Linked DNA regions of Homo sapiens: region 1 is linked to region 2. The links come from fine-mapping of genetic effects on gene expression. Tissue or cell type: whole blood. Region 2 holds a variant in brackets; the other region holds the start of a gene. All regions are shown on one strand. Distances are from middle to middle.

Region 1 (8,103 bases), 120 kb before region 2:
CTCTGCCTCCCAAAGTGCTGGGATTACAGGCGTGAGCCACCACGTCCGGCCAACTCTCTAGGGACTTTTATGTGTTTAGCTATCTGGAAGTTCTCAGAACTTTGTTTTTTGGAGTTTTAATAGAGGCTTTATTTTATGTAGTCATGATTGATTAAGCTATTGACCATTACTGAACAACTTAACTTTCAGCGCCTCTCCCCAGTCCCCGGAGGTTGGAGTGACAGTGTGGGTGCAGATAAAAGTCCCACACCTCTAATCTTGTCTTGGTCTTTATGGTGACCAGTCCCATCTTGAGGTACTAATACTTAGGGACTGTCAGCCATCAGTCATCTCATTAGTATATAAAAAGACATCATTTTGGGGTTTTTAAGGATTTTAGGAGCTATACTTCAGGAAACAAGGTTGACGACAAAATATATATTTTGTAATATCACACCAAGATCATAATTTTGTAAATCAGTGTTCCCTAGATTTTACTGAGAGGTGAAACCAGTATCTGCAACCCAGATTAACCCCCTAGATAATATCAGCGTTTACATAGAGTTTAGAGTACCCCTGGTGAAAACTGATTCCTAAGTAGGTCAGGTCACAGTAGTTTGTTAATGGGGATACTTCCTTGTCTTAGAATCACTTCCTCCTGCTCTGAAGGGAAACTGAAATGGATTTAGTTCTTCCTAAAAAATGCTGTGCTATATTTTAGCCTTTTTTCTGCTGGCTTATTTCATTTTATCTCATGGCTTCATGATCATTGGTGTCTCTCTCCTTTATTTTTTGAAGATTCTGACACTTTCAAGCATTTTCCAGTTACTGCCAAAGCTTAATGAAGTTAAAGATATTTGCAGTGTTGTATAATTAACTCACATCCATAGAGTTCTGCGGCAGCTTTTAATGGGTTCCTTCCTATAACTAACAATCTCCTGCTTACTCGTCTTAAAAAGTTTCATCTTCATGTGGTCTCTTTTTTTCTTCTGCTGTCCCTTCCTCTTCCTCTTTCTCCTCTTTAAAGCAGCAGGTTGTTTTACTTCTTGATTAGAGTATTTTCACAAGTGGTCACTGTTTTTGAGAAGTCTCCAATAACTTGGTCAAGATTAGATCATTGTATTTGACTAAAAAGTCAAGCCCTGGCAGGAAGGTGATTACTGAGGCAATGTCTTGTTAGATAAACCTGCATTGCATGTACCGTTTCCAAATTTTAGCAGACTAAACTGTGCAGCATTGTTTGAATTTCCCCCTCCAACTCACTCTGGCTATTAATCTGCCTTAGGAGATAGGTAGCTGGCCGTTCTCATTGTTATATATCTAGCAGTCTCTGGAGGAAAGAGAATTCAGACCTGGTAACTGAGAGCAAAATATTTATACAGACACAAGAATGGGGGTGGGCAGGAAGGGAGGGTTGTAACTGAAAAAAGGCAGACCAAAACAGTTTTGACAACTTAAATTTATTGTAACTGCCCAACAAAGGAAGTAGAGTTGGAGGTTTATCTGCAAGAGGTTTTTTTTTGTTTTGTTTTTTGTTTAGTAGCTCCACCTCTTAATTTATTATTATTATTCATTTTATTTTATTTTTTGAGACAGTCTCGCTCTGTCACCCAGGCTGGAGTGCAGTGGCACAATCTTGGCTCACTCCAACTTCTGCCTCCCGGGTTCAAGCGATTCTCTTGCCTCAGCCTCCTGAGTAGCTGGGATTACAGGCGCCCTGTCACCACGCCCAGCTAACTTTTGTGTTTTTAGTAGAGACGGGGTTTCTCCATGTTGGCCAGGCTGCTCTCAAACTCCTGACCTCAGATGATCCACTCACTTCTGCCTCCCAAAGTGTTGGGATTACAGGCGTGAGCCACCATGCCCGGCTTTAATTCATTATTGTTAATATTTTTGAGACAGGGTCTTGCTCTGTTGCTCAAGCTGGAGGGCAATGGCACCATCATGGCTCACTGCAACTTCAACCTTCTAGGCTCAAGCGATCCTCCTGTCTCAGTCTCCCAAGTAGCTGGGACCACAGGTGCATGCCACCATGCCCAGCTAACTTTTTTTTTTTTCTTTTTGTAGAGACAGGGTCTTGCGATGTTGCCCAGGCTGGTCTCAAATTCCTGGCCTCCAGCCATCCTCCCACCTGGGCCTCCTGATGTGCTGGGATTACAGGCGTGAGCCACCAGACCCGGGTTAGCTCCACCTTTTAATGGAGGAGAATGATAAGCAGGTTGAAAATGGTGGGGTGGGATTGGAGAAATGCATCATCGTAAAATATTTTTTAACTGGGGGCCCATGTTGGGAGTCGCACGGTTTCTCAGAAAAGGATCCAGTAGTAGCATTAACCGAGGGAGAAAGATAAGCTGTGGGGAAAGGGCTAGTGATTCAGGAGTTGGAATTCCAAACATTTTCCATAGCTTGTCAGGAACATTTGTGCAGACCTTTGGATATATAGAGAGGGAGTCCGTCTGCTGATAAAATGAGCGCTGGGTTTACCAACCTTCGGCCTTGGCCCACCCCTGATCCTCACCGCCGGGCAGTGAGATGGACACGTTATTTGCCTCCATTTGGTGGACTGCGCTCTGCGCTTCCAGAGGTGGAGCAATTGTCCGCCTCCGCCCGGCCAGCACGTGCGGGAGGCTGGATTTGAACCAAACAAGTTATCTGTGTACCCCACGCCTTTGCTTTTACCCACTAGGCGGTAACGTGATTTCACGCCTGAGAGTTTCTTGGCTGAACAAGTTGGAAATCACTGGTTTCAGAGATTGGAAATCACTGGGTGCACGCCCCTGGATTCTTTCCCTAGCCACTCGAGGCCGTCGCGCTTGCCTCGACGTCTCTATTCGCACAGCGCGCAGTTACCACCGCCCCACTCCCACCGCGCCAGCCTGCGGGACTCTCGGGCTTCCCTCGGGCGGTGGGAAAAGAGCCTCCCGGGCTGACTCTGCTCGGCGCGCATGGCTGCCAGGGGAAAGTATTGTCCTTAAATCCAGAGCGGCGATACGCGCAGGGGAGCGATCTCAGACCGCGGCGGAGCATCGGTGATCCCAGGGCCTGCCGCGTTCCAAGGCAAGCGCTAGTACTGCGAGCAGACAGTGGTCACTAAGAAGTCATTACCAGATTGGCAGGGGGAGTCCTAGGGATCCGGGTCCCGCCGTCCCTCACACCTCCCTCCGCGTCCTTCCGGACCCCAGGGCGACGCGGACCCGGCCGGGGGAGCCCGGGGGAGGGGGCCGGGCCGGGGTGGGGCGGGCGCGCGTGCGCGAGCTGTCAGACCGGCCCCGCCCCTCCCCTCCCGCCCCTCCCCCGCTCTCCGGGTGTAGGGCGGGCGGGCGCTGCGGCGGCCGCGGCTGCTGCTTCCTCGGGCCATTTTGCTGTGGAGCGGCGGGGAGGAGGAGCCGCCGAGGAGACCCCGGGCGAGGAGCTGCGAGCCGGAGGAGGCCGCGCGGACTCCGGGCTTTCCGCCGTCGCGGGGATCTCGGGGGGCAAAGGGATCGCCGGGGAGGGGGACCAGAGAGCCGCGCCCGCCGCGCGGAGCGCCCCTTCGCGTCCCCTGCACCATGAGCTGGGGCACCGAGCTCTGGGTGAGTGAGGGGCTGGGCCCGCGGGCAGATGCGGGGCGCGCGCTGCGTTTCCCCGCGGCCTGGGGAGGGGGCGCGGGCCGCGCTGCTGGGCGGAGGCGAGGGCGCGCTGGTCGGGGTCCTCGCGGCCTGGGGAGGAGGCGGGGTTCCAATGCCCCTCGTCCGCCTTGGCCCGAGCAGGAGGTGCGGGCCGGCTTGTCCTTCGGAGGCGAGGGGAGTTGGTGCGGGTCCCCGGCGGCCTGAGGAACGGCGCGGGCGGGCCTCCCTGTCCCCGGCGCCCCGGAGCGGGCCGTGTGTGTCGGGCCGAGCCCTAATCCCCCGGGGCGAGCCGCGGATGCCCGGGGAGGGCCGGGACCGGGCGTGGGGGCGTGGAGGCCCCGGCTGCGCGGCGCTGCGTTGGGTCTCGGGGCGCCCCGGCCGCGAGTTCTGTCCTGGCTCCGCGGAGGCGCTGGCGGATCGGGCACTTCCCCGGGAGCGGGGCGGCCGGGGCGAGCGCCGGGGGTCGGGTTTTGGGGTGCTGGGGCGAGAGTGCGGTCTTCGCTCTGGAGGCGAGGACTTCTGGCCCGTGGCGGCTCCGGGCGCACTTGTTCTTTCGGGGTAGCTCAATCCTGAGTGGGATGTGGGCACTGCGACGTCTGGTCTGGAGGGGAAAGTGGGAGTTAGGGAGAGATCTTACGTGATCTACCTCAGGAAGAGGCGTTCGCGGGGTCAATGATCTTTAACGGTTGCTCGGAGAATAGTTTCCAGTGGGGAAAGTTGGCGGTGAGGGGCGCCTTGCGGGGATGCTTGGCCGGGGGATGCGCACGGTAAACGGGCAGCCCTCAGGGCTGAGGGCCGTCCCCGGAAAGGCGAGGGGCTGGCTGTGGATGGAGCTCTTTTCCTGCCGTCCCCGGATTCCTGGGGAAATCACTGGGCAGGGGATGGGCAGTGCGGCGGCCCGGGAAGGAGCAGACGAAATCTCAGTTACTGCACTGAAATGCCCTCAAGATGAGCCATTTCCCAGGATGAACTCTAAAGTGCCTGAACTACCTTTTGGAATTCTATTTGCAAAGGGTGTGGAGGAGAAAGTGTAGGGTGGTGTTGCTATCTGAGATGAGGCCAAGAAATCTCATATCAAAATAAAACAAGGTTAGAGCAATTACAGAAACAGAGCACATCCTCCCTTGTTTTTTGTTTTGTTTTCTTTTGCTTTAATTGTTTTTACATAACCATTTGTTAGGTACAGAAGCAGCTACGGTTGTTATTACCAAAATCCTGAGGGCAATAGCTCCCTTAAATTAAGATAATTCATTTTATAAACATCTTCTGCCTAAAAGGGATTCATGACAAAATTTCCGCTGATGTTTACAAGTATCCATTTTGAAAATAAAATAGTTTAAAATATTTGCACACACCAGTTTAGGCAAAATCTATGACTTTGAGTACCGTATTGAAGTTTCTTTCCTCTTCTAATCCTTCCACTCCCTTTAGCTCTCTTTAGCTTATCTGGGGTGGGGAAGCAAATCAGAAGTAATCTTTGTCAAGACAGTAGAAATTGTGGCACAATTTTTTTTTCACTTGTTCAGACAGGTGGATGGAATTATGGAGGGAAAATGTACAATATATTTCTGAGTGAAATAGGGACCGAACACAATACCTTGGTGGACAGTTCAGTGATGTTGGTGAATGGGATAGAATATAATTCCAAAGAGAGGCAGTGGCTATGAGCAAAACTGCTAAAACAGCGGCAATTGCTTGCATTATTCTGTACATTTCTTTTTGAGGGTGCAGAAGTGGGAAGGAAGGCAGGGTTAGGAGTGATTGAAAATAAATGAGAGAGGCCGGGCGCAGTGGCTCAGGCCTATATTGCCAGCACCTTGGGAGGCTGAGTCGGGAGGATCTTTTGGGCCCAGGAGTTCAAGAACAGCTTGGGGAATATCTGGAGAGGCCTCCTCTTAAAAAAAAAAAAAAGAAAAGAAAAAAGAAAAAAGAAAAAAATAATAAATGGGAACTGGAATATATACAAATATTAATGATATGAAATCTTATATTTGCTTCACAATAATTTGGGTTGTTAGTAGATGGGAGATAGTGAGACAGAGTTGGCCATTATTGAAGCCAAATGCTGAGTACAGAAGTATTCATTACACTATTCTTTCTAGTATATATATTTGACATTTTCTACAATAAAAATAATTGGAAAATAGTTTTAAAGGAGAAGGATGTGAACTATTTGTAATTTTTTCACTTGACAATTTTATGAGGAAGAATGAATCAGTTAACAGTTCTATATATGCAAGTGTATGGCAATGAGGAGTTTTTAAAAAGACATTCTTTTTTTTTTTTTTTCTGAGACGGAGTCTTGCTCTGTTGCCTGCCCAGGCTGGCGTGCAGTGGCGTGATCTCGGCTCACTGCAGCCTCTGCCTCCCAGGTTCAAACGATTCTCCTGCCTCAGCCTCCCAAGTAGCTGGGACTACACGCGCCTGCCACCATGCCCAGCTAATTTTTTTGTGTATTTAGTAGAGACGGGGTTTCGCCGTGTTGGCCAGGCTGGTCTCAAACTCCTGATGTCAGGTAATCCGCCTGCCTCAGCCTCCCAAAGTGCTGGGATCGCAGGCGTGAGCCACCACGCTTGACGTTAAAAAAGACATTCTTATGAGTACCAGCATTTGCCTTTGAGTAGCTTACAGTTTAATATAGGAAAAGGAATGAACACATGATTGTGCTACTAAGAGAAATGCAAAATCTAAGTTTTCAGGTGAAATGCAAAGATGTATAAGGCTTAGTAGCTTTTGAGATTTAAAAAAACTAGAATAATGAAGGATTATGAAAAGTAAACCCCAGTTTCTCCGGTGGTCAGAGACTTGGTGATGTGCGGTACATTGGGTAGCCCAGCGGAGGGCAGTGATTAAGGGTTTTCCTTGAATGGTGGCTTTGGAATCATGCACATGTATAATGAGATAATGATGGGGCGCTCAAGCCAAACTTGGCAGAATTATTCTTCTAGATGGAGAAAGAGCTATGGTTTGGGTGGCCATGAATTATTTGTAACAGGTGGTTGCAGCTTTCAGGGACCTTCACAAATACTATCAGATTTTACATACATTTTAGGACTTCAGGTTAAAATCAATATAGGCTTTTAGAAACTACAGGTTTCTAATGTGCATTTTACACTGAAGACCTGCTCCTAAGCCACATCCTGCTTTGTAGAGGGAGTAAAACCTTTCTCTTCCTCTTTCTTTTTTACTTTTTCTTTAACCCCTCCATAGAAATAAACTTTCTTTTTTTTTTTTTTTTTGAGACAAAGCTTCGCTCTTGTTGCCCAGGCTGGAGTGCACTGTCACGATCTTGGCTCACTGCAACTTTCACTTCCCAGGTTCTAGTGATTCTCTTGCCTTAGCCTCCTGAGTAGCTGGGACTACAGGTGTGCATTATCACACCTGGCTAATTTTTTCTATTTTTAGTAGAGATGGGGTTTCACCATGTTGGCCAGGCTGGTCTCGAACTCCTGACCTCAAGTGATCTGCCCGCCTCGGCCTCCCAAAGTGCTGGGATTACAGGCGCGAGCTACCTCGCCCAGGCTTACATGGCCATTTTGAAGTGATTGGGTTCTAATAAAATAGTTTACAACTCTTCATAACATAGCTCTTCATAACATTGCCTTTTAATCAATTTTCAAAATTTTTATTGAACAACTATGGTGTGCACAAGACACCAGTCTGAATCTGTTGTAAGTTACATTATATACATTGAAAGATATCTACGTGGAAGCATAGAAAGTAGGTTTTACCTCTAGCTTGTAACATCAGAGTCAAAAGAAAAATGTTTGTATGTAAAATTAACCAAAATACATTTACTCAAGACTTGTTAAAAAGGCAGTGTTAGTAAGGTAAATATGTTCACTGACTTGTTGAAGTTGTGGCTGGTTGTTGGAGAAATGGCAAAGCAAGAGTTGCTTACATTTGAATGTTTTTTTTTTCTTGCCTACTTACTGAGGGAAGTGACAGGTTACTGAAGTGTTAGTTCAGCTTTTTATTAGCTTGCTTATTAGTGTGAAGTATGAATAAATCCATTGGAAAATTAAGCCTTCCTCGTAATTATTCTCTTTGCAGCTAACAAATTATTCAGTGACAGAACCTGGTTTTGCTGCCTCCTAGTATCCTCTCTGTCTTTATTTATTTGCTCTGGTGCTAATGAGAAATGAAGTATGTACAAGAAAGAGAACAGAGAAACCTGAATAATGCATATTGGTTAGCATAGTAAGAAGCCACATGTGGGCTGGGCGCGGTGGGTGGCTGACGCCTGTAATCCCAGAACTTTGGGAGGCCAAGGCGGGCAGATCACGACATCAGGAGTTTGAGACCAGCCGGACCAAGATGGTGAAACCCCATCTCTACTAAAAATACAAAAATTAGCCGGGCGTGGTGGTCCACGCAGGTAATCCCAGCTACTCGGGAGGCTGAGGCGGAGAATCGCTTGAACCCGGGAGGCGGAGGTTGCAGTGAGCCGAGATGGCGCCATTGCACTCCGCCCTGGGCGACAGAGCGACTCTGTCTCAAAAAAAAAAAAAAAAAA
Region 2 (8,103 bases):
CTGCCCACCCGAGCCTTCCATAGAGCTGGGATTGCAGGCGTGATCTACCACACCCAGCCAGGTCTTAGTTTTCTGAAACATTGGTTCAGTAAAACAAAACAAAAACAAGCAAACAAACAAATAGTTGCCCTGGTTATGTTGGAAGACAGCCTATTTCCTGTTGTGTTTCTGGCTTACTGCAGTGAATTTGCCAGGTCACTTAAAGACCAAAAACCCTATCTTCATCTGGCAGGAGGTAGTTTTTTGCCTTGTGTGGACCTCAAATTGTGTTAGAGATTCACAAGATTATATTTATCAAAATAACACCACAATGCTATGTGAATCTAAGGTGGTATTAACGGCACAACCTCTTGTACTTCTGGATGACTTTAGAATTTATAGACATTCCTGTTTGAACTTTAAAATCCATTCTGCAACTAGTCAACAATTGTTGCCCCTTTTTTAGGTATGTGATCAATCAGAATATGAATTAGAGAAAAACAAATGTGTAAATTATTGATTTTTTAGGAGAAAAGCAATGCAGTAAAACATAAAATAGCACTCCTCAAAAAACATAAAAAGCATAAAGAAGTTGCCATACTTATTCCCTCTTTAGCATATATACTAAATATAAACATGCTAGAGAGCTTTAGAAAAGTCTCCTTAGGTCAGTGGTTCATATGCCTTTTTAGTGCATGAACCCCATTGAGAACTGGGTTTAAAAATTCATGGATTTCCCAGCCAGGCACCGTGGTTCATGCCCATAATCCCAGCACTTTGGGAGGCTGAGGCGGGTGGATTGCTTGAGTCAAGGAGTTCAAGAATAGCCTGGGCAATGTGGTGAGACCTCCTATCTACAAAAAAAATACAAAAATTAGCCAAGCATGGTGGTGCACGCCTGTAGTCCCAGCTACTTGAGAGGCTGAGGTAAGAGGATTGCTTGAACCCAGGAGGTTGAGGCTGCAGTGAGCCAGGATCGTGCCACTGCACTCCAGCCTGGGTGACAGAGCGAGACCTGGTCTCAAAAAAAGAAAAAAAAAAAATGAATTTCTCATCCCCTCCTCAAAAAAAAAAAAATGTGTATATGAGATGAGCAGAGGTTCCCACAAGGGTCATCCAAATAATGTAAATTGGCCCAAGTGCAGACAGTATAGAATGGTGTGTCAAACTAGAAGGTACACGCCACGTTAAGGCAGTAGGGAATGGTGGAGGTTTATACAAACTAGGATGCACATTGCTTACCTAAAGTCAATTCAATTCAGAACATTAAAAAGCACCCGCGGAATACATTTGAGGTAAATCTGGCCCCTAGGCATCCCAGTGTGCAGTTCTAGGCTTTTATTGATTGCACCCAGGCTTTTATCTATGGTGTATAAACGTAGGAGTATTCTTGTTTTTGCCCTAAGGCCCGACAACAAGCTCAAATACGTCACCAAATGGCAGAGGACAGCAAAGCAGATTACTCATCCATTCTCCAGAAATTCAACCATGAGCAGCATGAATATTACCATACTCACATCCCCAACATCTTCCAGGTAAGTCCTGAACATCTCTCAGATTTCATGTTTTATGCTTTGCTTTCCTTAGAAACATGACACTTCTGAATCGTGATTGCTGGGTTTGTATTCTGAGTCTGAGTCTTTATATAATTCCAAATTTCCACTAATTTTTTTTTTTTTTTTTTTTTTTTTTGAGACAGAGTCTTGCTTTGTCACCCAGGCTGGAGTGCAATGGCACAGTCTCGGCTCATTGCAACCCCTGCCTCCTAGGTTCAAGTGACTCTCCTGCCTCAGCCTCCCGAGTAGCTGGGACTACAGGCACGTACCACTGGGCCCGGCTAATTTTTGTATTTTTAGTAGAGACGGGGTTTTGCCATGTTGGCCAGGCTGGTCTCAAAGTCATGACCTCAGGTGATCTGCCTACCTCGGCCTCCCAAAGTGGTGGGATTACAGGCCTGAGCCACCATGCCTGGCCCTTTTTTTTGTTTTGTTTTGTTTTTGTTTTTTGAGACAGTCTCACTCTGTTGCCCAGGCTGGAGTGCAGTGCACAATCACGACCCACTGCAGCTTTGAACTCCTGGGCTCAAAGGATCAAGGGATCCTCCAAGTTCAGCCTCCTAAGTAGATGGAACTACAGGCATGCACCACCATGCCCTGCTAATTTTTAAATTTTTTATAGAGATAGGGTCTTGCTGTGTTGCCCAGGATGGTCTCAAATTCCTGGACTCAAACAGTTCTCCAGCCTTGGCCTCCCAAAGTGCTAGGATTATAGGCATGATAAATCATTTTTTAAAGCATCTAGATCAAGCATTGACTAGCAATATGAATGAAATATAATAATCTCAAGATTAATCAATAACTTTGCAAATTTCTATAGTTTGCACCTGCAGCCAATTATTTGTCAGTCTTTTTTCTTTTTTTCTTTTTTTCTTTTTTTTTTTTGAGATGGAGTCTTGCTCTGTCACCCAGGCTGGAATGCAGTGGCATGATCTCAGCTCACTGCAACCTTCACCTCCTGGGTTCCGGCGAATCTCCTGCCTCAGCCTCCTGAGTAGCTGGGATTACAGGCACCTGCCACCATACCTGGCTACCTTTTTTGTATTTTTAGTAGAGACGGGGTTTCACCATGTTGGCCAGGCTGGTCGTGAACTCCTGACCTCAGGTGATCCGCCCGCCTTGGCCTCCCAAAGTGCTGGGATTACAGGCGTGAGCCACAGCGCCTATTTGTCAGTCTTAAACTATGATTCTGTGATTAATGCTGTCTTTGCTAAAGGGATGATTGTGGTTATAAAAATGCCAACTTAACTATAGAAGTCAAAGCAGCATTCATAGAGTTATAGGATTTAAACAAATGACAGTTCTTTCTTTTGGATTGTTTTCTTTTGCTCATGTTAGGTTGTCAAAAATGGTATGAGAAAAGATAGACATATGTTCTTCCATTTTACAGATTTTTTGCAACTTTGAGTCCAATTGTAGAAAAAATAAATAATATATTTGCTTCTTGGTGTCTACACACACAGCAAACAAGTCCTTGTAAATTATAGTTGGAAGATACACTAGCATGTATTGGGCTGAGGCAGTTAATTAAATACTGTGCTTTTGGTAAAAGGTAAAGTAGTAGATTAAAGATGGAGAAAACGTTTGAGGTAGATTACAAATAGTGTTAGTAATAAAACTATTGGCCAGGTGTGGTGGCTCAAGCCTGTAATCCCAGCACTTTGGAGGCCTAGGCAGGTGGATCACCTGAGGTAAGGAGTTGGAGACCAGCCTGGCCAACATGGCGAAACCCCATCTGTACTAAAAATACAAAAAATTAGCCAAGTGTGGTGGCGGGGGGAGGGGGGGTGGGGCCTGTAATCCCAGCTACTTGGGAGGCTGACGCAGGAGAATCACTTGAACCTGGAGGCAGAGGTTGCAGTGAGCTGAGATCACACCACTGCACTCCAGCCTGGGTGACAAGAGCAAAACTCCGTCTCAAAAAAACAAAAAGAAAAACAAAAAAGAACTATTGAGTTTGGCATTCTTACTAAAATTAGAATGGAATTGTGCAAAGCATATATTTGGGCAGCCTAACATGTCTAGCAATTTATAAAATAAATGTACAGCTGGGTAATATGGAGGCTCCGTGTACTTAGAGCCGCTCTAACTCTAACCCATTTTTTCCTCAAAGAGAACTTGTTAGAGGTAACAATGCTGCCGAAAAACAACTTTGTTTAATAATAATGGACCAAACTTACTTTATACAAAATCTAATGTTGCAGAAAATACAAGAGATGGAGGAAAGGAGGATTGTGAGAATGGGAGAGTCCATGAAGACATATGCAGAGGTTGATCGGCAGGTGATCCCAATCATTGGGAAGTGCCTGGATGGAATAGTAAAAGCAGCCGAATCAATTGATCAGAAAAATGTAAGTATTGCCATTTGGACTTCATTGATAACTATTTGCAGATCCATTATTTCTCCCCATCCCCTTTCCATTTGACCTCATGTCATCATCTCATGGTGGATGGTTGCTTTTGGTGGTCACACATGCTCTGTGTCTTGGATTTAGCTGTATAATTCCTTTTTTGGTAAACACATTTAAGTGGTAAATTGTCCGAGACATGACAGAATTGAATTGAAGTATTTCCTGGAAAAAAGGTAAAGGCTTTGTTTCCTCTAAGGCAGGGTTTCTTTCTCTTTTTCTTTTTCTTTTTCTTTTTTTTTTTTTCTTTTTGAGATGGAATCTCGCTCTGTTGCCCAGGCTGCAGTGCAGTGGCGTGATCTTGGGTCACTGCAACCTCCACCTCCCGGGTTCAAGCGATTCTCCTGCCTCAGCCTCCTGAGTAGCTGGGACTACAGGCGCCCGCACCACGCCCAGCTAATTTCTGTATTTTTAGCAGAGACGGGGTTTCACCATATTGGCCAGGCTGGTCTCGAACTCCTGACCTCAGGTAATCCGCCCGCCTCAGCCTCCCAAAGTGTTAGGATTACAGGTGTGAACCACTGCACCCGGCCAAAACAGGGTTCCTTCAGCACTTTTGACATTATCTCAGGCCAGATCATTTTTCTTGTTGGGGGCATTTCAGAATGTTTAGCAGCATCCTGGCCTCTACCCAGCAGAGGCCAGTAGCACTCCCCGAGTTGTGACAATCAAAAATGTCTCCACACATTGTCACATGTCCTCTGGGAGGGCAAAAGCTTCTCTGGTTGAGAATACTGCTTTAGGGCAGTGTTCTCCATTTGAATTCCTAGAGACCTATTTCTCAAAAAAATATAAACTAGAACACCAGCATAGGCTTTTACTGTTAATTTGAAGACACAAATATTCAACATAAAAGTTATGCTGCTGGCTGGGCACAGTGGCTCACATTTGTAATCCCAGCACTTTGGGAGGCCGGAGCGGGTGGATCACTTGATGCCAGGAGTTCAAGACCAGCCTGGCCAACATGGTGAAACCACATCTCTACTAAAAATACAAAAATTAGCTGGGTGTGGTGGTATGCCCCTGTAGTCCCAGCTACTCGGGAGGCTGAGGCACGAGAATTGCTGGAACTCAGGAGGCAGGGATTGCAGTGAGCCAAGATCA[C/T]GCCACTGCACTCCAGTCTGAGTGACAGAGCGAGACTCTGTCTCAAAAACAAACAAAAAAATCAGAAAACAATAGTTCTAAATTCTAAAAGCTCGGATGAAAAGCTCAAATGATGGCTTTTGAGAAGAATGAAAAAAGCTGGCCAGCTGTGGTGACTCAAGCCTGTAATGCCAGCACTTTGGGAAGCCGAGGCAGGCGGATCACCTGAGGTCAAGAATTTGAGACCAGCCTGGCCAACATGGCGAAACCCCATCTCTACTAAAAATACAAAAATTAGCTAGGCATGATGGCACATGCCTGTAATCCCAGCTACTCGGGAGGCTGAGGCAGGAGAATCGCTTAAACCTGGGAGGCGGAGGTTGCGGTGAGCTGAGATCACGCCACTGCACTCCAGCCTGGGTAACAGATTGAGACTGTCTCAAAAAAAAAAAAAAAAAAAAAAAAGCTACTAGGAAAAAAGTTATTATCAATCAGTACAATTTCGTTAGTTATCATCTGTATGAGATCATCATAATTCATTGTTTTTTTGAGATGGAGTCTCACTCTGTCGCCCAGGCTGGAGTGCAGTGGCGCGAGCTCAGCTCACTGCAACCTCCGCCTCCTGGGTTCATGCCATTCTCCTGCCTCAGCCTCCTGAGTAGCTGGGACTACAGGCGCCCGCCACCACGCCTGGCTAATTTTTTGTATTTTTAGTAGAGACGGGGTTTCACCATGTTAGCCAGGATGGTCTTGATCTCCTGACCTCGTGATCCACCCGCCTCTGCCTCCCAGAGTGCTGGGATTACAGGCATGAGCCACCGCACCTGGCCAATTCATTGTTTAAAAAGTGTTTGCATGCTTCTGAATGTATTTATATGCTTGTGGGTATAATTTCAGGATTCACAGCTGGTAATAGAAGCTTATAAATCAGGGTTTGAGCCTCCTGGAGACATTGAATTTGAGGATTACACTCAGCCAATGAAGCGCACTGTGTCAGATAACAGCCTTTCAAATTCCAGAGGAGAAGGCAAACCAGACCTCAAATTTGGTGGCAAATCCAAAGGAAAGTTATGGCCGTTCATCAAAAAAAATAAGGTACTGATGGTTGGCGTGAAATGAGTTTTCTAAGGTGTGGAGATTTTGACTTGATCTTTTAGTCTTAGAAAAACTAAGATCCTAAACCTGTAGTTTCAGAATGCAAAAGAAGAAGCTAGTGTGCTACCTTATGTTGAGACAGTATTTCTTTTTGGTGGTGGTATCTTTGCCATGGCCCTGTGTCTTATTTCAGATGCATTATCCTCGTACCGTGACTCCCACACTAACAGAGTACTGACCTCTCCACCGTTTCGCCTCATGCCTTTCCCTCCTTCCTCTCCTAGACTGCTGGTTACCTTGGCTGGGAGAGAGGATGTAGTGGGACATTCCTGTAACACTTTATCCGCACATCTACTGGAAATCGTTACCATGTTAATAACTTGGTTTTGAATTCATGTTAACATGTGTACCCATGAACATTTTTCATTTTCTTTTCATAGTGCGATACATAGGTGCATGACAGCATTAACCTGGGGACGTAGAATATGATCAAGGCAGCATTACTGCTTTAACTTTAGAATGACTTACTATTTATTAATTTAAACAGACTGCTGTTTCCACAACCTTAGCATTGAAGGTCTTTCATTTTCTCCCATCAAGCTATGTTAGTTTAGGTAATGTAGAAATATTTACCCTCTGGCTTAAGCTGGTTTAGAGTAACTAACTAGAGCTATAGTTTGCATGGGAAAGTCTGCACGAGCTTCTTGTCAGATATTTCTTGCTCTTCTGTCGCATTACTTACTAAACCTCCCAACTCTCATCATATTCTTCATTTAACCACCTCCTACATGTTTTCTTTTGGACCATGGCCTAAAATTTAATTGTTTGTGTTTTACTTGCGTTGGATTTCAAATATTATTTGATGCTTATTTTTGTTTTGTGTCTTCTTGTTTCTGATTTTTACTCTGTCACGGCTCCATCTCTTACATGTAGCTTATGTCCCTTTTAACATCCCCCCATCAGCCTCCCCCTCCCCCTCCTGCCTCTGCCTCACCCTCTGCTGTTCCCAACGGCCCCCAGTCTCCCAAGCAGCAAAAGGAACCCCTCTCCCATCGCTTCAACGAGTTCATGACCTCCAAACCCAAAATCCACTGCTTCAGGAGCCTAAAGCGTGGGGTAAGTTCTGCTCCGGAATCCTGTCTCTCTGGCGTGCTTTGGTTGCATGTTTGGTTCTGCATAACTAATTTTGTTTGTGAATGAATCCATTGTGTTTTCCCATAACATATAAAAAAGTTAAAAAAAAAAAAACAAAAACCATTATAGCTAGAAAGAAAAGCCAGAAAGAGGAAGAAAGAAAGAAGGAAGCATGGTGGTTGGAAGAAAGGAGAAAACCAGACAGCCCAGAGTTCTTTCTATTTGTTTCTTTCTTTTTTTTTTTTTTCCAGACAGAGTCTCGCTCTGTCACCAGGCTGGAGTGCAGTGGCGTGATCTCGGCTCCCTGCAACCTCCACCTCCCGGGTTTAAGCGATTCTCCTGCCTCGGCCTCCTGATTAGCTGTGATTACAGGCATATGCCACCACGCCCAGCTACTTTTTATATTTTTAGTAGAGACAGCATTTCATCATGTTGGCCAGGATGGTCTCGATCTCTTGACCTTGTGATCCGCCCGCCTCGGCCTTACAAAGTGCTGGGATTACAGGTGTGAGCCACTGCGCCCGGCCTTTTTCTTTTCGTTTCTAGTACATTTTGGAAGGACTTTACCCCTCTTCCTCTTTAAAGCATCCAAGTCATGCATTTTCTACCTTAATTTTACCAAAAAAAACCACTTAGATTTCATTTCTAAAACTAGCGACCTGAGACTGGGCGTGATAGTTCACATCTGTAATCCTAGCACTTTAGGAGGCCAAGGCAGGAGGATTGCTTGAGCTCAGGAGTTCAAAACCAGCTTGGACACCATAGTGAGACCCCCATCTCTTAAAAAAATATATAAAAATTAATAGGACAAGCGCAGTGTCTCATGCCTGTAATCCTGGCACTTTGGA

What was found. PIP is the estimated chance that this variant, and not a neighbour inherited with it, causes the effect.
Region 1: it holds the start of FNBP1, and the variant in region 2 is fine-mapped to the expression of FNBP1 in whole blood (INTERVAL, PIP above 0.99).

Annotation. Positions count from the first base shown.
Region 1 is chr9:130,038,400-130,046,502 of GRCh38, reverse strand. It overlaps FNBP1 (formin binding protein 1), which reads left to right and starts at 3,314. Exons shown (of 17, transcript NM_015033.3): 1 at 3,314-3,551. The coding sequence starts at 3,528. RefSeq lists silencers at 3,052-3,611, 3,792-3,951, 5,995-6,044 and an enhancer at 6,955-7,074.
Region 2 is chr9:129,922,978-129,931,080 of GRCh38, reverse strand. It overlaps FNBP1 (formin binding protein 1), which reads left to right. Exons shown (of 17, transcript NM_015033.3): 7 at 1,386-1,514; 8 at 3,740-3,886; 9 at 5,924-6,121; 10 at 7,055-7,237. Among named protein-coding and RNA genes, the nearest start is that of MIR6855, 57 kb to the right of the region's middle. The variant C/T (reference allele first, on the strand shown) is at 5,048.